Homo sapiens: one gene and its partners. The protein of the gene in region 2 purifies or fractionates together with the protein of the main gene of each other region. This does not show direct contact. Each region holds a gene or a part of one and is shown on either strand. Other genes may lie near its edges.

What was found.
Region 1: the proteins of GATC (region 2) and PDPR purify together in Homo sapiens (affinity purification with mass spectrometry; 2 studies listed by BioGRID and IntAct, with this or other methods). This does not show direct contact.
Region 3: the proteins of GATC (region 2) and HIBCH purify together in Homo sapiens (affinity purification with mass spectrometry; 2 studies listed by BioGRID and IntAct, with this or other methods). This does not show direct contact.

The regions. Positions count from the first base shown.
Region 1 is NC_000016.10:70,109,845-70,117,339, forward strand, and holds the start of PDPR (pyruvate dehydrogenase phosphatase regulatory subunit, mitochondrial isoform 1 precursor), read left to right. Parts: upstream 1-4,487; 5' UTR 4,488-4,596; intron 4,597-4,976; 5' UTR 4,977-5,086; exon of another isoform or gene 5,087-7,231; intron 7,232-7,495. UniProt on the Homo sapiens protein: Decreases the sensitivity of PDP1 to magnesium ions, and this inhibition is reversed by the polyamine spermine.
Region 2 is NC_000012.12:120,456,441-120,463,464, forward strand, and holds part of GATC (glutamyl-tRNA(Gln) amidotransferase subunit C, mitochondrial), read left to right. Parts: intron 1-635; coding exon 636-739; intron 740-3,466; coding exon 3,467-3,519; 3' UTR 3,520-5,578; coding exon of another isoform or gene 5,579-5,722; 3' UTR 5,723-7,024. Other genes in the region: SRSF9 (serine/arginine-rich splicing factor 9), read right to left, coding at 5,579-5,722. UniProt on the Homo sapiens protein: Allows the formation of correctly charged Gln-tRNA(Gln) through the transamidation of misacylated Glu-tRNA(Gln) in the mitochondria. The reaction takes place in the presence of glutamine and ATP through an activated gamma-phospho-Glu-tRNA(Gln).
Region 3 is NC_000002.12:190,309,819-190,316,842, reverse strand, and holds part of HIBCH (3-hydroxyisobutyryl-CoA hydrolase, mitochondrial isoform 1 precursor), read left to right. Parts: intron 1-6,046; coding exon 6,047-6,089; intron 6,090-7,024. UniProt on the Homo sapiens protein: Hydrolyzes 3-hydroxyisobutyryl-CoA (HIBYL-CoA), a saline catabolite. Has high activity toward isobutyryl-CoA. Could be an isobutyryl-CoA dehydrogenase that functions in valine catabolism. Also hydrolyzes 3-hydroxypropanoyl-CoA.

The DNA of each region.
Region 1 (7,495 bases), on a different chromosome or scaffold from region 2:
AAAAAAAAAAAGAAAGAAAGAAATCAGTAATTCCAGCACTTTGGGAGGCCAAGGTGGGTGGATCACTTGAGGTTAGGAGTTCAAGACCAACCTGGCCAACATGGAGAAACCCCATCTCTGCTAAAAATACAAAAATTAGCCAGGCATGGTGGCGTGTGCCTGTAATCCCAGCTCAGGAGGCTGAAGAAGGAGAATCGCTTGAGCCTGGGAGGCAGAGGTTGCAATGAGCTGAGTAGACAGTTTTCAAGATCTCTCAAAAGGAGGGAACCTGGGGTATACTACGGGATTTCAGTTGAAAGACTTGGAGAGCTAGGCCCTGGGAACAGAGGCAAGTGAAGTAGACAGAACCCTATCAACACTGCATCCCATAGACCTTGAGCTAATAAACACAGAAGGAATTACAGAATTAGAAAGTTACCATTTGATAACCACCATAGTAAAATCGTCTCAAGCAAGTCGAGTCAGTGGATAATAAAACTAGTGAGGCTGGGTGTGGTGGCTTATGCCTCTAATCCCAGCACTTTGGGAGGCCAAGGCAGGCGGATCACTTGAGGTCAGGAGTTCAAGACCAGCCTGGCCAACATGGTGAAACCCCATCTCTACTAAAAATACAAAAAAATTAGCCGGGCATAGTGGTGGGCGCCTGTAGCCCCAGCTACTCGGGAGGCTGAGGCAGGAGAATGGCGTGAACCCAGGAGACGGAGCTTGCAGCGAGCCGAGATGGTGCCACTGCACTCCAGCCTGGGTGACTGAGCGAGACTCCGTCTCAAAAAAAAAAAAAAGAGAGAGAAGTTCCAGGCCGGGTGTAGTGGCTCACGCCTGTAATCCCAACACTCTGGGAGGCCGAGGCGAGCGGATCACAAGGTCAGGAGATCGAGACCATCCTGGCCAACATAGTGAAACCCCATCTCTATTAAAAATACAAAATTTAGCTGGGTGTGGTGGCACACGCCTGTAATCCCAGCTGCTCAGGAGGCAGAGGCAGGAGAATCCCTTGAACCAGGGAGTTGGAGGTTGCAGTGAGCCGAGATCGCACCACAGCAGTCTAGCCTGGCGACACAGTAAGACTCCGTCTCAAAAAAAAAAAAAAAAAAGAAGTTCCTGGCTGGGCGCAGTGGATCAAGAGATCGAGACCATCCTGGCCAACATGGTGAAACCCCGTCTCTACTAAAAATACAAAAATTAGCTGGGCATGGTGGCATGTGCCTGTAGTCCCAGCTGCTCAGGAGGCTGATGCAGGAGAATGGCGTGAACCCGGGAGGCAGAGCTTGCAGTGAGCTGAGATCGCGCCACTGTACTCCAGCCTGGGTGACAAAGCAAGACTCCGTCTCACAAAAAAAAAAAAAAAAAAAAAAAAAAAAAGAGTACTGATTGCTACTCGCAACATTCTTCTCTTCCCATGGTGTGAATGAGAACATCCCTGCTTTCCACACAAACACAGGCTCTCAAGCACACGAGAAGCATGCCAGGTGTCAGGTCCTTTCTGTGAAGTCGGTTGTAGGCAGATGTCCAGTCTACTGATGGGGACAAGAACTTCAGAGGGAGGAGGGAGGCCTTCCCCACAGCCATGCCGGTGCTGCAGGGAGGTAAGATAAACGCCTGCATCTTAGCGACCTCAGATCCAAATTCATTCTTACACTGTGGTAACATAGGTATGTCAAATGTTTGTCTGTACACTGTTTATCCTGTGTGGTAGCAAATACATTTACCAAGTCACTGCAGATGAAGATTTCACAAGAGGACTTGACAAGCGTAATTAAAACGTCTGTTTAGGGCAAGACATGGTGGCTCATGCCTCTAATCCCAGCACATTGGGAGGCCAAGGCAGGTGGATCTCTTGAGGTCAGGAGTTTAATGCCAGCCTCAGCAACATAGTGAAACCCCACCTCTACCAAAAAATACAAAAGTTAGCTGGGGACGGTGGCACGCGCCTGAGGTCTCAGCTATTCGGGAGGCTGAGGTGGGAGAATCGCTAGAGCCCAGGAAGTTAAGACTGCAGTGAGCCGTGATTGCACCACTGTGCTCCAGCCTGGGTGACAGGGTGAGAGCTAATCTCAAAAAATAAAAATAGGCTGGACGCGGTGGCTCACGCCTGTAATTCCAGCACTTTGGGAGGCCTAGGTGGGCAGATCACGAGGTCAGGAGTTTGAGACCAGCCTGGCCAACATAGCGAAACCCTGTCTCTAATAAAAATACAAAAATTAGCCCAGCGTGGTGGCGCACGCCTGTACAGTCCCAGCTACTGGGGAGGCTGAGGTAGGAGAATCCCCTGAACCTGGGAGGCAGAGGTTGCAGTGAACCGAGACCACACCATTGCACTCCAGCCTGGGCAACAGAGTGAGCCTCCATCTAAAAAATAATAATAAAATAAAAACACTCAATCCCCTAGAAAAAATAGTGCATCAGTGGTTATGAGAACCTACTAAGGACAAGACCCATCTTTGACAATGAAAGGGGCCTTAGGACTTACTTCCCTTTTTTTTTTTTTTTTGAGACAGTCTCGCTCTGTCGCCTAGGCTAGAGTGCAGTGACACAATCTTGGCTCACTGCAACCTCCGCCTCCTGGGTTTAAGCAATTCTCCTGTCCCAGCCTCCCAAAGTAGCTGGGATTACAGGCATGTGCCACCACGCCCAGCTAATTTTTGTATTTTTTAGTAGAGATGGGGTTTCACCATATTGATCAGGCTGGTCTCGAACTTCTGACCTCACGTGATCCAACTGCCTTGGCCTCCCAAAGTGCTGGCATTACAGGCATGAGCCACCGCACCCAGCCTGACTTAGCATTTTGGAGTGGAGGCCGATCATGGTGATGGAGAAGGAAATCAGGGACAGATCTACACCATTTGTTTGCTATTTACTGCACGTAAACAGAATGAAATCAACACATTAAGTATTTCACTTGATTTCATCCACCATCTCCTGCAGACAACCAGGTTTCTCCCAAATTCATGTGCCTGGAAATGGCTTGAACCAAATGGTTCATGAGGAAAACCTGTGATATTTTTCATGAAATCGCCACATCTGGGCATCAGGAAAGCCTTCCCCGAGAATGTCTCAAATTGGTCAGCCGTTTTCTCTTTTTTTAGACAGGTAGGTGTCCCCAAGCATTCAATCCTAGCTAAAATATGGAAGTATTTATCTAGCACAGGAGCCTATGGCATAGTTTCAGTCCACTGTCTGGCAGACCTCATCTGGGCTGTCTTTGTGTGATTTGACTGGCCAGTAAATGGGGTATAAACTATGTAGGCTGTGGCCTGGCCTTGTGACAGAGGGGTCCCTGGAACTTGACTGCCACTCCCTAAGAGCAGAAACCGCCTCTTTCTTGTACATTGCTGGATCCCATCATCCTGCACAGTGCCTGGCTACAGGTGGCCAGCAATAAAACACAAGATTGGGGCAGGCACAGTGGCTCACGCCTGTAATCCCAGGACTTTGGGAGGCTGAGATGGAAGGATCACTTGAGGCCAGGAGTTCAGGCCCAGCCTAGGCAACATAGTGAGCCTATCTCTACAAAAAAAAAATTTTTTTTAAATTAATAAAACACAAGATTGGTTTGTGTGGTGAGACAGTATTGAATCCAACAAACGGGAACTGGATAGTGTGGCCCAAGATGCAATGGTGGCTGCAGCATGAGACCCTTATGCATATAATATTCAGTGGAAGAGGTGCCAGGCACTGTTCTGGGTGCTGAGAATAAAGCTATGCATAAGACTAAGGTTCTGTCGACAGAGATCGTGTCACACCAGTGGAAAAGACAGTCATCAAACTTATATCCTTGAGTCAGTGATGAGTTCTAGAAGGAAAGAAAAGGCTGATGTGACAGTGAGGAAGGGATGAGTGGAGACTTCTCTGAGACTTCAGTGATTCCTCTTCCTCTGAGCTGAGCCAAGCTGAGAAGCTGAGAAGAGTAAGATAGGGCCGGGAACTCAGGTCCGTTAGTCCGTCCTCCGAGGTGGGGCGGGCCAGCAGAATGGATTTCCGATCTACTCTGTGAGAGCCTCGCCCAAGAAAGCCCAGAGCCACTTCCAAGATCCGCGCTCCCACGGCGATGAGAAGCGTTTTCCCCCGGGACTGCTTGGCTTAGGACTGGGGACCCACTGGCTTTGGAGTAAGCCCTGGCACGGGCCTCGAGGGAAGAAAGAACTCCCGCGCTCCCCACACTCCACAGGGCCTGCGATCATCTCAGATGTTCCGGTTCCACGTGCAGAAACCCCGCCGGTCCGAGGCCCCGGTTCTAAAACGGCCCTAAGAGTCAAGGCTTCCACAGCTCGCCTCTGAGGGTGGCAAAGAGGCCGCGGGGGCGGTGCCTCGCGAGACCCAAACAAGCCCACGTGGCAGGGGCGGGGCTCCGCGAAGGCGTCACGGCGCGCTCGTGCGCTGCTGAGGTCACGCGCCGGCAGTACCCTTGCCCGGGGGCCGTAAAGCGCGGAAGGTCGCGGTCTCGGCTTCCCCGGAACTTTTTGCTCGCTTCGCCCCGCCCCCTTCCCATCCCCGAACCCCGCTTTCCGGCCCGCGGCGACCCCAGGCAACTGTTGTGGCTGCCGCATTGCTCCCGCCGGGCTGTAGCTGAGCGCGGAGCCCGTGGGGACCGGTGAGGTAAGGAGATAGCTTCGGGGCAACTCTGGCCTCCCCGTCCGCGCGGGCCTAAGCGCCCCGGGACCCCTGGGTTCCCCTCTTTCTCCTTTGGTTTCGCCCGGGGGTGGTCCCCGCTAGCTCACGCTTCCAGTGGGTTCCGCCTGGCCTCTCGCGAAGTCGCGTCCGGGCGCCAGTACTCGTCCCCGTAAGGTTGTCCGCTCGTGCCTTGGCTTGTGTTCTCGGCTACCCCTGGGCGTGCGCACCGCTCCTCCAGGAGCCTGCACTTCAGCCCCGATGCCAGGGCGGCCGGGGTGACCTCGGGCTCCCCCGTCTCGGGCTTGCACACCCCTGCGGCGCAGAGCCAACTCCAGCTTGTCTAGCCCGGTCCTCCATCCCTGCAGATGGAACTGTTTTCCCGCGTTGAGACGTGCGGTCCGCTTGTGCTTTTAGAACTAAAGACTGCTGCAGAGTCCGGAGGAAGAAGTCACCTAGAAAAATCTGGGACAGGGCAGTAAGCTTCCTTCTTAATGTTTGACCTTTGGGGGCCGATGTGTGATACCTCGGATTTGAATCAAGAATCTCCAAGCCCATTTTCCGCATGCATGTAAACGTGATGTACCGGGATGGGGTCTGGTGGTGGAGGAGGAGCCAGCCTGACGGATAAGCTTTTCCAGTGGCAGGGACTTGTGTTAATTTCTTTTTTCTTTTTTTTTCTTTTTTCCGAGACAGAGTTTCACTCTGTCGCCCAGGCGGGAGTGCAGTGGCGCGATCTCGGCTCACTGCAACCTCTGCCTCCTGGGTTCAAGCAATTCTCCTGCCTCAGCCTCCCAAGTAGCTGGGAATACAGGTGTGCGCCACCACGCCCGGCTAATTTTTGTGTTTTTAGTAGAGACGGGGTTTCACTATGTTGGCCAGGCTGGTCTCGAACTCCTGACCTCGTGATTCTCCCGCCTCAGCCTCCCAAAGTGCTGGGATTACAGGCGTGAGCCACTGCGCTCGGCCAACTTGTGTTAATTTCTTAAACTTGCGTGATCACCTGGTGTACTTGTTGAAAAATACAGCTCCCTGGAGTGGCAGGATCAGAATCTGCCGAGGTGGACCGTGGGAATCTGTCATTTTTAAACAAGTGTCCCAGGTGGTTCTTTTGCTGAGGCAAGTGTGGGAAATGTTGTGTGAACCCACGCTCATCCAGTCTTCCTTGTGACCGGCAGTCCACTGTGCGCAACGCTGCAGCCATACAGAGGGACAACTCGAAGTTAGAACTAGCACCTTGGTCTTGTTGGAATAAGCAGATCTGAGTAGAGCCAGCTGCAGTCTTATGGTTGTTTAGCAGAAGTTATTCTTCTTAGCAGAGAATATTATACGGTCATTTTCCAGAACTGTAAAAACTCTATCATTTGTTTTAAACCAGATGATGTGCTTCATTTCTGTCTTTGACGTCTTCAGTTTCTTCTCCCCTGGCTTTACCTCCTTTGTTATCAGTTTGTGCTTTGGTTTTGCTGCCAACCTTATAGGTTTAGGTTTGGCGGCAAAGGCACTAGACTCTGGTGCCTTCTTTTCCTTCGTTGTCTTAAGCCCTTCTTTTCCTCTGCCCTCATGCCCTCACCACTTCACTCTTTTGAAGGTCATAATGAACACAAGGTCAGAGATCCCTTTTTTGGCGCCAAGCACCCTGGGCTTTTTTGAGATGGAGTCTCACTGTGTCACCCAGGCAGTGGCGCGAATCTGCCCACTGCAGCCTCCATCTCCCTGGTTGAAGCAATTTTCCTGTCTCAGCCTCCTGAGTAGCTGGGACTACAGGTGCAAGCCACGACACCTGGCTAATTTTTCTGTTTTTAGTAGAGACGGGGTTTCACCATGCTGATCAGGCTGGTCTCAAACTCCTGACCTCAAATAATCCACCCACCTTGGCCTCCCAAAGTGCTAGGATTACAGGTGTGAGCCCCTGCGCCTGGCCTTTCTTTGTTTTGTTTTGTTTAAGACAGAGTCTCACTGTGTCACCCAGGCAGGAGTGCAGTAGCATAATCTCGGCTCACTGCAACCTCTGTCTCCCAGGCTCAAGCGATCCTCCTACCTCAGGAGTTCAGGACCAGCCTGGGCAACATAGTGAGCCCCTCTCTACAAAAAAAAAAAAAAAATTAAAAAAATTAATAAAACACAAGATTGGCCTGTGTGGTGAGAGAGTATTGAATCCAACAAACGGGAACTGGTTAGTGAGGCCCAAGATGCAATGGTGGCCGCACCATGAGTACCTGGGACCACAGGTGCGTGCCACCACACCCAGCTAATTTTTTGTATCTTTGGTAGAGACGGGGTTTCACCATGTTTGCCAGGCTGGTCTCCAACTTCCGACCTCAAATGATCTACCCGCCTCGGCCTCCCAAAGTGCTGAGATAACAGGCGTGAGACATGGCGCCCGGCCTAAAGTTTTTTTTTTAATTCCACCTTAAAACTCATCTGTTACTGTGTTTGTTCTGCCACCTTTGCAATTCCCTTTCTCTGTTAGGGGAATGTGCTTAATGGTTCAGTCCTCACAGCTGTCCTTTCCTTACCATCTGCTTTTATTTGAAAGGTAGCGTGGAGTCATGATTAAATAGCCGGCCACTAATGCCAAATTGGCAGGGTTCTGCTACTCAACAGTTTGGTAGGACCTTGGGTGAGTCACTTCCACTTATCTGTGCCTGTTTCCTCAAGTGTAGAATAGAAATGCTAGTATCTACCTCATAAGGTTGTGAGGATTAAATTAGTTATATATATAGGCAGTATCTGGTGCATTGTAACTACTTATAAAAATATTAGCTTTAAAAATTATTTGCCGGTCACAGTGGCTCATGCCTGTAATCCCAGCACTTTGGGAGGCCAAGGCAGGCGGATCACGAGGTCGGGAGATTGAGACCATCCTGGCTAACATGGTGAAACC
Region 2 (7,024 bases):
ACATCCTTAAGTTACTCTTGTGGCAAGTTTGCTTCCCCATCTCTGCTTAGCTTTCCAGCTTCATCTTCCACCCCGGCAGACCACACCCCAGCCTGCTAAACTCCCTGTCCTTCTCTGAATCTCTGAGCTCTCGGCTCTATTGCTTTGGGATTCATGCTGCTATACGTGCCAGGAAGTCCATTTCTCATACCTTCATCCCCCAATCCAGCTATTTCTTGCCCATCCTTGAACAGTGACATCAGCTATTCTGAGGATGTGCTACTCACGCAGGCTGGACTAGGTACCCTTTCTATCCTTTGGCAGGCTGTACTAACCTCTGTTAGATTTAAAATATTGTTTTTGTAATTGCTTTTACCTGTCCCCACCAAAAGACAGTTGCCCATATAATCATCAAAAACTATTTGTTAAATCAATCCAGAGAAGTAATTAGCACTTACTTCTCAGGGTTGTTCGGTCAATCTATAAACTGTAGGCTGTTATTTGGTCTACTGTTGATCCCAGCTTCTCTATCTTTGAACAGTGCCCATTAACTCAAGAATATACTGCTTCCTTGTTCTCTCCTTCTTGCCCCTCTCCATCATCCCCTAAAAGCCCCCTTCTCTGAGAGGGTAACCTTGAGCTTCTGGGTTTTGTAGATGTCTATACCTGAGATCCGACAATGTGGTAGAAGGCAACTGTGCTGATGAATTACTACAAAACTCCCATCGCGTCGTGGAGGAGTACTTTGTGGCCCCCCCAGGTACGTGCTGCCCAGAATGGTTTAACAGATAGTCTCACAGTAACCTTAGGAATGAAGCAGGAAGCATGAGGACCAAAGATGCTATGTGAAGGCACTTTGAAAAGGATGAAGTGCATACAGATGGTGGCATTAAGGTGGCAGTAGGGTCCAGGGTCATACTCACCTCTAGGGGGCAGTTAGTAACAGGAACAAGCAAAACAGGATTGGGGGCATGCGGGAGGTTTAAAGTAGGTGGAAATCTGGAGCTCAAGATCTCCCTAAAGGGGCAGCTGGCATTCAGTGTTTCTCAAAGCCACAGTTAAGACCCTGCCAGATCCTGTAATCGACTCCAACTTTCTAGTATTCATACCATGAATAAATATTTGTTAGGTCTAGCTTTGGGCTGGGTACCACAAAAAAACCAGTCCTTTCCTAAAAGAATCCTTTTTTTTTTTTTTTTTTTTTGAGACGGAGTTTCGCTCTTGTTGCCCAGGCTGGAGTGCAATGGTGCAATCTCGGCTCACCGCAACCTCCACCTCCCGGGTTCAAGCGATTCTCCTGCTCAGGCTCCCCAGTAGCTGGGATTACAGGCATGCACCAGCACGCCTGGCTAATTTTTTGTATTTTTAGTAGAGACAGGGTTTCACTGTGTTAGCCAGGATGGTCTCGATCTCCCGACCTCAGGTGATCCACCCACCTCGGCCTCCCAAAACGAATCTTATTGTGACAACTTAGTTATCATGTGTGGCCTTAGCCCAGATGTTTCTGTCACATCTTTGCCTATGACATGATTCAAACGCCATTAGGGTCTGCCCTCAGTCTGTGCCCATTCAAAGCAGGAGGAGCATGGCTGCTACCCTATCAGTGTTGCCAGGCAGGAATGTAAACCCATTTCTCCAGAGAACCTGGATACCTGACATTTTGTGTGATATTTCTTAAATTTTTTTTTTTTTTTTTGAGATGGAGTCTCGCTCGGTCACCCAGGCTGGAGTGCAATCTTGACTCACTGCAACCTCTGCCTCCCGGGTTCAAGCAATTCTCTGCCTCAGCCTGCCGAGTAGCTGGGATTACAGGTGCCTGCCACCATGCCTGGCTAATATTTTTGTATTTTTAGTAGAGGCAGGATTTCACCATCTTGGCCAGGCTAGTCTTGAACTGGTGATCTACCCGCCTCAGCCTCCCAAAGTGCTGGGATTACAGGGGTGAGCCACTGCACCCCGCCGATATTTCTTAAATTTTAAGTGCTAGCAACCAATTCAAAATTTAAAAAACAAAATACCATCCAAGCCAAATAAAACACATCTGCAAGCCAGGTGCAGTCTGTGAGCCATCAGTTTACAACAGCTGGTATAGAGATTTGCATCATCTACCTACTGTAAATATTTTAAATAGAAGCTTTAAAATTACTCTGGGCTGACAGTAAAATCCAGAACCTTGGATAGGTTGACTGTTTTTATCTCCTCTGCAGGTAGGTGAATACTTGGAGCTGTTGTACTACCCCTCTGGGCATCTGGGAGTGGGACTAGCCAAAAGCAATCAGGTAGCCTGCTAAGTGCCAACTTCCAGTTCAGGATATCCTGAGGGAGAATCATTCTGAGCAGACTCCACAGAAGACATTGGCCCTGGTCAGCTTAAGGTGCCAGTTAAAGGCAGGCTCTGGTTGATGCAAGGATGGGAAAGAAAGCTAGAAATTTTGTGAGCTAAACTTTTTGTTTGTTTTGAGACGGAGTCTTGCTCTGTTGCCCAAGCTGGAGTGCAGTGGCGCGATCTCGGCTCACTGCAAGCTCCACCTTCCACGTTCATGCCATTCTCCTGCCTTAGCCTCCCAAGTAGCTAGGACTACAGGCGCCCACCACAACGCCTGGCTAATTTTTTGTATTTTTAGTAGAGACGGGGTTTCACCGTGTTAGCCAGGATGGTCTCTCTCTCCTGACCTCGTGATCGTCCGCTTCGGCCTCCCAGAGTGCTGGGATTACAGGTGTGAGCCACCGCACCCGGCCGTGAGCTAAACTCTTAATCATGCCTCCAATCCACTAAACCACCTGTTAACTGTGGAGAGAAAGGAGACTCTCCATCTCAGAGCCTGATAGTTGTGGCTCCAGCAGAAATATCTTTTGATCAGACATGCTATCTCCCACACAGAACCTTACTTCAGACTTTGCTTTTTGGGACCACCTGAGTTCATGGTCAGTGTTTCCTTCTAGTCCTATCTGCATATTAGTGGCTAATCAACCTGTATACTCCTTACTGAAAAAGGTGAATTTGGCTACACTTAGAACTGATTCTTTCAGATACTCCCAGTTAGGAAAACAGGACAGTAGCTACATTACTTCCATATTTTCCATGAGAAAGTAGTGATCAGTTAGCTCAGTAGAGCCAGCTGGGCGGCAGGCTCAGCTATAACATTCTCTGTTGTGGCCGGGCGCGGTGGCTCATGCCTGTAATCCTAGCACTTTGGGAGGCCGAGGAGGGCGGATCACGAGGTCAGGAGATCGAGACCATCCTGGCTAACACGGTGAAACCCCGTCTCTATTAAAAATACAAAAAATTAGCCGGGAGAGGTGGCGGGCGCCTGTAGTCCCAGCTACTCTGGAGGCCGAGGCAGGAGAATGGCGTGAACCCCAGGGGGCGGAGCCTGCAGTGAGCTGAGATTGCGCCACTGCACTCCAGCCTGGGCAACAGCGAGACTCTGTCTCAAAACAAAAACAAACAAACAAACAAAAATTCTCTTTTGTTATTTTCAAACAGGTAATATCTCTTTGCCAAAGCTGGATGAACAAGAGCCATTCCCACACAGCTGAGTAGCTCATTCTGGAAAGGGGGTACTCTGTGAACATGTGGAAGCATAATGACAGTATTTTTTTACTGTGAATACTAATGTTCCTGCTTTTTTCAGTCCCCTGAAAAAATGGATGCTCAAGCATTTCTTAATAACAGATTCTTCTGAAGACAGAATTGGGAAAGATCTGGCCCCAACAAGGCAGTGAGTTCCTGATGCTAACTGAGGTGAAAGAAAAGCAAAAGTCAGCTTCCAAGGAATTCACTTAACAGGCCTGTTCAGTATGGAAGACATTATTTATCTGCCTTTAACTCCCCCCAAAGGACCATACCAACTGCATGAAAGTGAACTTTTCTATCTACGTAACTGGTAGACGGAGCATCTTGATCACTATGTGACAACCTTGGCTGTCATTTTTAGTTGCCATTTGCATTGATTTGAGCAGCCCTATCTTTACCGAACATACCTGAATTTGTTCCTGGGCTCCCACTTTCTTCCCAGAAGAGGGCTAACTTCCTACTAAGGTCTGAAGAGTGTTGAAAGTAGACTAGAGCTTGGGAACTCCTAACCTAGAACTATCTGCCATCCCACAAAGTGATTATATGCCAAAGGGATACTAGTCATACCTAGTGTTTCTCTTTCTGAAAAGAGAACTTATCCTAAAATTAGCCCTGGGCCTGGGACAAAGGAGCCCTCTCCGCCCCCAAAATGATTATTAAATTGAGATGAGTCCAGGATAAAACTCAGATACCAAGGATAAATGAAACTTATTTAGGGATAAAAGTGGGCTGGGCGCAGTGGCTCACTCCTGTAATCCCAGCACTTTGGGAGGCTGAGACGGGCGGATCACAAGGTCAGGAGATCAAGACCATCCTGGCTAATGCGGTGAAACCTCATCTCTACTAAAAATACAAAAAATTAGCTGGGTGTGATGACAGGTGCCTGTAGTCCCAGCTACTCGGGAGGCTGAGGCAGGAGAATGGCGTGAACCCGGGAGACGGAGCTTGCAGTAAGCCGAGATCGCACCACTGCACTCCAGCCTGGGCGACAGAGCAAGTCTCAAAAAAAAAAAAAAAGTGATAGAATCAGAGAGTTTTTCCTCTAACCAAACTGCCAAAGTTGGTTTTGGCTAAGAATTTCCCAATAATATTTATGCTGCTGCTCATTTTTTTAGTTTTCTGAGACAGGGGTCTCCCTCTGTCACCCAGGCTGGAGTGCAGTGGTGACAGATCACTGCAGCCTCCAACTCCTGGGCTCAAGTGATCCTCCCACCTCAGCCTCCTAAGTAACTGGGACTACATATGTGCATCACCACGTCCAGTTAATTTTTTTTTAAGTAGAGGTGGGGGTTTTGCTATGTTGCCTATCTGGTCGTGAACTCCTGGCCTCAAGGGATCCTCTGGCATGCCTTGGCCTCCCAAAGGGCTAGGATCACAGGCAAAAGCCACCGTGTGTTTATTTTTCCCATTCCCTTCCTTTATCTGCAATGCTTTTTTCTTTAAGGCAGCCTAATTTACAAGCTTGGCCTTGAATTAAAAGAGAACCCAGAACCCGCTCTTGGAGTTTACGTTCTCAAACCAACATCAGAGCAACTGTCTATCCCCATATAAATAAAGTTATCTACCCCTGCTCCTAACTGGGTACAAGTTATGACTACAACTCAGTGATTTTTTAAATTAGTGTGCCTATTTGGTGAAATCTGTGAACTTAATCAAGGACAACCACACATGTCAATTACTAAACATTTAAAATATATTTCTAAACAGAATGGGCCGACTCAGTCACAGTAACTGTTGATCTCCATAGTAGAGCAACCCACAAAGACAGAACTGATTTTTTTCCCATAATCAGGGGTGAAAAATATACAACTTGTTTCTGAACCAAAACCACAATTTCTGCAGTTTAAAATGTTTCACTGCTAATATGGCCCTGGTAGAAATTATGTAGTTTTTTTTCTTCTTTAAAAAAAAAAAATTAAAAAAATTTCCTAAGACACTAAATCCTCAATCTGGAATGTAGATTCTGAGCACAAAGCAGCTCAGTTAACCTAAAAAATAAAGAAAAAATTCCCATCACCTGTCTCAGTAGGGCCTGAAAGGAGAGAAGTAGTGTGGGGAACCCCTGCTTTGGTATGGAGAGTCACGGCCCCTTGACCCAGACCGAGACCGTGAGTAGCCATAGCTGGTGCTTCTCTCAGGATAAACTCGGATGTAGGAAGTTTCACCCTGAAATGCAAACAAAAACAAAAAGAGTAAAGGGGAAAAAAATCAGAGCCAGAAGAATAAGCAAACCAACATCTAACAATAATAGTTAAGTATTGAGCACTTACTGTGTACTCTGTGCCTGGCATGAGGCTATCTCATTAAACCTTCATAACATTATGAGGTAGGTACTCTTACTATCCCATTTCAAGAATGAAGAAAATTAAGACTTAAGTTATATCATTTGCCCAAGGTAACACAATAAATGCCAATTTGACATGTTGATACTCAATTAACTATGATAAACAATATATCTGAATTACTGCCATTGACCCCCCTCAAAGCTAAGAACTGGAAAGGATCTCAGGGGTCATATAGTTTAATCCCCTGCCACCTCATGTATGCATCTTTGGATGGGCATCTATGGAAGGAGCTAGCCTGTATTTAATACCTTCCAGATGTGAGGACCTGAGCTAGATGCTTTAGACGTTATCCTCTTGCTCTAGATTCCTGGCAAGTCTTGTGATGGTGCTATTATGTGACCATTTTGCCCATGAAGGAATCGAGGTCCCAAGAGTAGTTCAGGTAAGGAATTAATAAGCAGCAGAGGAGTCATGTCCAGGCTGGCTTGTCCCCAGGCCCTCTGCCTTCAGCCACCATTCTCAGAAGATCCAAAGATGCCAAGGGGAAAGAAGCCGGATGCTTTTTCACCTTAGGTGAAAGTCAGTAATTGGAGTTACCCTTTCTGAGGCCCTGCTTTGCAGTATAACTGAGGATCAGGTGCTGTTCTGTTTCTGCTTCAAATTCAAGTCCTAGAGGACAGTCTGAACAAAAGCATCATTAAACCAGGGAAGGACCAACCTCTAAGCCAAAAACTAGGCAATTATATGAATCCTCAGAAAAAGAAATGAGCCCAGAGACCTGTGTCCCCAAACATCCGTAAATCTCATAGTAAGGCAGGACAGGATAACCAGAAAAAAACAATGTCCAACTGGTCTGGTTTCTGGTCTCAATGGTACCAAAGGGATAGTCACCACCTCAATCAAACTGAGATCCAAAACAGCAGCTGCTTTCCTACAAGGAAAGACATCAAGAACTACTGAGTCTGAAGGGTGACATAATCAACCACAAGAAAATGTTACGGTTTAGCCTGGCACAGTGGTGCATGCCTGCAGTCCCAACTACTGGAGAGGCTGAGGTGGGAGGACTGCTTGGGCCCAGGAGTTCAAGGTCAGCCTCGGCAATATAATGAGACTGTCTCTAAAATCAAAAATTAGAGAAATATAAAAATTATAAAATTAAAAAAGAAAATGTCATGATAGCTCA
Region 3 (7,024 bases), on a different chromosome or scaffold from region 2:
GTTTTGGTTCTTGCTCTTTGCCTGTCTTCTCTTTTACTTCTAGTTAGTTGTTTCTTAGTTGATCAAAGGCTCAATCTTTGTTGCTCTTTTAGGTTGTTTTCTGTGTTAGGAATCATGAGCCTGAATGCAGAGGCTGAGAAGGAAGCATTGAAAGATGCTGGCTAGATGGCAGCATGGGGGACTGGTGAACTGGAGAGAGTGCTCTAGAGAGGAGGCAGCTTCTCAGCCCCAGCCATTGTTGCCCTTATAGAATATAGACCCAGGGTTTCCATTATTACTGATTTTTCTGGAAAACCTGGAAAAAGTGCAGTTTTAGGTGAAATGTCTTGATTTTTAAATGTTAGTAGTTTTTTTCTGTTTTTCTTCTTTTTAATCTCTACCATTCCATCCAGATAATGTTAGTAGTTTTAAAACTGCTCGGCTGGGCATGGTGACTCAAGTCTGTAATGCCAGCACTTTGGGTGGCTGAGGCTGGAGGATCACAGCCCATGAATTTGAGACCAGCCTGGGCAACATAGACTGTCTCTCTACAAAAAATTTAAAAATCAGCCAGGTGTGGTGGTGTGCGCCTGTAGTCTTAGCTGTTCAGGAGGCTTGAGTCCAGGAGATTGAGGCTGCATTTGAGCCCATGTATCATACCACTGCACTCCAGCCTGGGTGACAGAGTGAGACCCTGTCTCTAAAAATAAATAAATAAATAGAATACAAAAATAAAATGCTGCTGACCAATACCACAGTTACAGTTGGCATCTTTCTGGCAATTAGTTTTCAACTGCAGCCTTCTCATTTATTCCTTACAGAAAGCTGAGAGATTCCAGTGTCTCAGTGATTGTACATGCATGTGGCATAAGATATACCTTTAGTTCTAACTTTTCTTTCAACCTCTAGTCTCTTTCTTCTGTTGACTATTTCTGCTTATGTCAGTACAAATTCAAATTCAAAAAATTGAATTTGTATTTCGTCCTGCAAACCAGCTAGCTTCTTTCCCTGTCTTTTCTATATTCTCCTGGTTGTCCTGGCTTGAAATCTTAAAGTCATTTTTGACATTCCTTTCCATTGAGTTTTTACTTTATAAAAACTCTTAATAATATCACTCCCTTCTGTTTCCACATCTGCTGTTCTTCATCACCCCATGCCTAAATTATTGGCCTCCTGGACTTGATTTTCTGCTCTGTTCACACCTTGCCTACTTCTGGGATAATAATTTTCACTAAGCACTACTTTGTGATGTCTTCTTCCTGCTTAAGCAGTTTCATGTAGTTGTTTAATTTCGTGAGGCCATGTTTGTTTTATTGGATAATTGCAAAAAGTTCCTGAGTGATAAAGTTCTCATCTAAGACAGTTGTTTATTTAAACTTCACGCATCATAACCACCTGGAGGGTTTGTTAAACACAGATTTCTGGGCCCCACAGTTTCTTGTTCAGTAGGTCTGGGGTGGGGCAGAGAATTTCAGTTTCTAGTCAGTTTCCAGGGGATGTTGATGGTACTTGTCCAAGAACCATACTTTGAGAATAACTGTTCTAAAAAGCCAAGTTGACATCAGTTGAAGGAAATAAGCCTGATAAAGTTAATTAAGAAATTAGAAGTAGCAGGCCGGGCACAGTGGCTCATGCCTGTAATTTCAGCACTTTGGGAGGCTGAGGCGGGCGGATCAAGAAAGAAGTCAGGAGATCATGACCATGCTGGCTAACATGGTGAAACCCCGTTTCTACTAAAAATACAAAAAATTAGCCGGGCATGGTGGCAGGCACCTGTAGTCCCAGCTACTCAGGAGACTGAGGCAGGAGAATGGCGTGAACCCGGAAGGCAGAGCCTGCAGTGAGCCGAGATTGCACCACTGCACTCCAGCCTGGGCGACAGAGAGAGACTCAGGCTCAAAAAAAAAAAGGAGCGGAGAGGTGCATGCCCTCTTCCTCTCCACCAGATGGCAGTTTTGGAACCAATAGAAAAGAAAGATCATAAATTCAGAATTACCTGGGGACACTGAATTCTCAATTACATTTTGAGGTATAAAAGCTAATATCAAATTTTAAGTGACAGCTGAATTTGAATTAGAACGAATGGGCTGGGTGCGGTGGCTCACACCTGTCATCCCAGCACTTTGGGAGGCCCAGGTGGGCGGATCACCTGAGGTTGGGAGTTCAAGACTAGCCTGGCCAACATGGAGAAACCTCGTCTCTACTAAAAATACAAAAATAAGCCGGGTGTGGTGACGCATGCCTGCAATCCCAGCTACTCGGGAGGCTGAGGCAGGAGAATTGCTGGAACCTGGGAGGCAGAGGTTGCAGTGAGCTGAGATCGTGCCACTGCGCTGCAGCCTGGGTGACACAGCAAGACTCTGTCTCAAAACCAACCAACCAACCAAATGGAAGCAATGTGATTATATAGTATTTGACAAGGAATTTGGTTGTGTGTGTATATATATATACACATATATACGTATATATATACATATATATACACATATATACGTATATATATACGTATATATACACATATATATGTATATATACATATATACATATATATACACATATATATGTATATATACATATATATATATTTTTTTTGTAGTAACTGGTCCACAGATTTTTGTGACCTATAAATATTGTGTACAGTGGCTTTGTTTGATAGGTTTACATTAACTTTCTTTGAGTTAAATAAAATTCTGTCTTATATATAAAACTGGGACTTGGAGTTAGTCCTGAGTTCTCTTTGTTTACTTGTTAAAACACTGCAGTTAGTACTTACACTGTTACATAATAGTTGCAAATCTGGCAACACCCTCTTGAACCTTGAACCTACATTTGGGTACTGGCCTCATTAAGGAATCCAAAGTCATTCTGGATTTTTATGCTTAAAATCTCCAGAAAGATAAAATTGAGTCAAGTTGAAAACATTTTAGACGTGGTGTTTTAGGGTAGTGTAGTTCACACTTTAAAAGTAATTATGAAAACCTTATTTAGAAAGTATCCCTAAATAAGATATGATCTGTCACTTCAGTTTCATAATTATAAAGTGTTAGTGTTGATTTTTAATGACAGCTTCGTTCTTTGAAATCATTTAGGGGAGCTTCAAACAAAGTATCTGTGCCTGTGCCCCACCTCCAGAGTTTGATTTAATTGGTCTTGGGTGTGACCTGGGCTTTGGAATTTTTAGCAGTCTCCAGGTGATTCCTTTTTTTTTTTTTTTTTTTTTGTGAGACAGAGTCTCTTGTCACCCAGGCTGGAGTGCAGTGGCACAATCTCGGCTCACTGCAACCTCTGTGTTAGAAATACCAAAATTGTTAGATAAGTGGTGTTGTGAAGAAAAGTCAGCACGGAGGCAAAAGATTTATCAGCAAGGCCATTTTTACTTTCTGCAGAAAGGGTCCCCAATTGCAGATGGAACAATGGCGAGAGCACACTTGACAAAGGAAAAGCAGACATATTTATCCCTTACGCATTTGGGTTGTCCTTAATGCTGTGTCCTGCATCCATTGGCTGGAGTGGGACCTCACACTCTTAAACTGATACCCAATATGCTAATAGCCTAAATAGGTAAGTGTAGGGAAGAACAAAGAAGTTGCTTATGAAAGGTTTAAGGAAGCAATAACATTTTTAAATAAGGGGAATAGGCTGTGAGCTCGAACATGCCCGTGAGCATGTCCAATAGTTACGTAGGATAGGGCTTAACAAAGAGTTACTAGCACAAAGCAAGGAGGCATGAAGAAAGTTAGTCTTTAAAAGAAATTATTATTTCTAACAGTTATGATTTATTCTTTAACAGGAAGAAAAACTTTGAAGAGGAAACTTTTTACTTTCTACACTCTGCCTCCCAGGTTTAAGCTATTCTCCTGCCTCAGCCTCCTGAGTAGCTGGGATTACAGGCGCCCACCACCATGCCTGGCTAATTTTTGTACTTTTAGTGGAAACGGGGTTTCGCCTTGTTGGCCAGGCTGGTCTGAAACTCCTGACCTCAGGTGATCCGCCTGCCTTGGCCTCCCAAAGTGCTGGGATTACAGGCATGAGTCACCATGCCCAGCCGAGTCTCCAGGTGATTCTAATGTACAGACCAGTCTTGGAATTACTGGGCTACATTTTACTTGTGAGACAAATTCAGAAAATGCTAGTTCAGGAATGTGAATTATAACTGACTTAAACAAATAGGTTGTTTCTCTCTTTTGTATAGTATTATTCAATTTGAATGTAATATAAAAAAGTCATATAAATTCTGAAAGGCAAGTTGGATTACAAATATTTTTATAAATTCAGTCATCCAAGTTGTTACAAGTGGTAACTGGTGATATTGCCTTTTGTGAAACCTCAGGCTGTTGGTCTTCATATAATCTCAGAGTATTCTTGAAAAATTAACAGATTGTCAGTTTATCAGTTCCATTAGTTGGTATATGTATCTGCACATGTGCACAGCCCTTATCAGGCTGCTGCAGCTACTGATTCTAGCTTTGACCTCTTTCCATAGATCTTAAATTTAGCTTCTTAAACAAAAAGCATGCATCTTAGTATATTCTAACTATAGTGTTTTTATTTGCACATCTGTCATTACGTTGTGGGTTTCTCGAGTGCAAGAGCTATGTCTTTTAGGACATTTTTTAAAAAGCCCAAAGCATAATGATACAACTTGATGAATTTTCACAAATGAAACATACCTAAATCACCAGCACCTGGATCGAGAAACAAGCATTCCAGAGGCCCTCCTCATGCCTCTCTCAATCACTGCCGTTCCCGGTGTTGTCTTTTACTTTCTTATTATAATTTACATAAGGCACTTGAGTACACCGTTCTGAAGTTTATAGCTTAGTGAACTTATACCTGCAGTCCTGTAATCAGCATTGGGATAGAGACAATTTCCAACATTCCGTGTTTGTTCATGCCCCTTCCCAGGTGCCCCCACCCTCACCATTCTCATGTCCATTATTAGTGGTCACTTTGGTCAAGCTGTGTCTCAGGCTTTGTATTCCTAGCCCAACAAGCACTTTTAAGACAGCAAAAAATAGAAGTGTGTTGTGTTTATTGTTTTGTAGCCTGCTCTCCTTTTGTGATTTGTCACTACTTTTCCATGTTAGTATTTTTAGTGGTTGTGTAATGGCTGTATTAATAGACACAGTCTTTAAAATAATGCTCTACTCTTAGACATTTACTTTGTTTTCAGTTTTTCCATCCTGTAAATAATGTGAACATATTTATCAATCAGACTTTGGTCATATTTCTGAGATTTCCCTAGTGCAAATGCTTGCGGAATTAGTGGATTGAAGGGTGTGATCATTTTAAAGGCTGTGGATTTGTATTTCCAGACTGTTTACCGGAAAGGCAGTACCAATTTATACCTCTCTCTAGTGTCTGAGAATGCTGTTTGTATTGCATCTTTAACAAACCTTTTTTCTTAAGATTAATGACTTTATTTTTTAGAGTAGTTATAAGTTGATGGAAAAAATGACCTGCAAATTTGAGCAGAAAAGTTTGACAAATAATAAGGACATGTATCAACCATTACAGTATCATACAGATTAGTTTCACTGCCCTAAACATCTCCTGTGTTTCAACTGTTCATCCCTCCTTCCGTCCCCCAAACCCCTGGCAACCATTGATCTTTCTACTGATTTCATAATTTTGCCCTTTTCAGAATATCATACAGTTGAAATGAGAGTATGTAGCCTTTTCAGACTGGCTTCTTTTGCTTAGTAGTATGTATGCATTTAAGTTTCGTCCAATTTTTTTTGTGGCATAATAGCTCTTTTCTTTTTTTCATGGCTGAATAATATTTTATATGGTTGTATTGAAATTGGTTTGTCTTCCAACCATTGAAGAACATCTTGGTTACGTCCACATTTTGGCAGTTATGAATAAAGTTACCATAAAATTCATGTGCAAAGTGGCTGTACCATTTAATGTTCCTACCAGCAGTGAATGAGAGCTAAACCTTTTAAAACTTTTTGTTCTGGTAATACCTTTTAGAAGAGGCTGAAACAAAAGGTGATATACTATTTGTCAACTGAGACATGACTACCCACATTACTGTTCTCATTGTTTTCCACATTTGTTTCAGGTTTAATGCATTCAAAAGGACTAATACCATACTGCACCATTTGGTAAGTTATTGTGTTTGTTTTGCTGGCATTATTTGTATGTGTAACTTAAAATGTCATTGTTAGAGAAGTAGAGAAATACTGGTATGGCAGATTTCCTTGACCTTAGGTACATCATGGTTCTCAACTGAGTGTCAAGACATGGCACACGCACCTTGTAGGAGGTGGCATAAGATTATGGTTAAAACCATGGTTCTTACAAGTCAGAATGCCTGAGTTTAAATAATGGGTTCACTACTTAATCTTGGGTGGATTACTTGGTCTCTTACAGCTTCCCTTTTGATATGTATAAAGTGAGAATAATAATAATATCTACCTTAGAGTGCTTATAAATGATAAATAAGATAATTGTATTAATCAGTGTTCTCTAGAAGGACAGAACTTATAGGACATATGTATATATGAAAGGGAGTTTATTAAGGAGAATTGACTCACATGATCACAAGATAAAGTCCCATGATAGGCCGTCCGCAAATTGAGGAGCAAGGAAGCCAGTGATGGATCAGTCTGAGTCCCAAAACCTCACAAGTTAGGAAGCTGACAGTGCAGCCTCCAGTCTGTGGCCAAAGGCCCAAGAGCCTCTGGCAAACCACTGGTATAAGTCCAAGAGTTCAAAAGCTGAAGAACTTGGAAGCTGATGTTTGAAGGCAGGAAGCATCCAGTGCCGGAGAAAGATGAAGGCTGGAAGACTCAGCAAGTCAAGTCCTTCCAACTTCTGCCTGCTTTTATTCTAGCCACTCTGGAAGCTGATTAGATGGTGCCCACTCAGACTGAGGGTGGGTCTGCCTCTCCCAGTCCACCGACTTGAATGTTAATCTCCTTTGGCAATACCTGCACAGACATACCCAGGAAAAATACTTTTCATCCTTCAATCCAATCACGTTGACAGTCAATATTAACCATCACAATAATGCATTAAAAAATCTAGCATAGTCTTT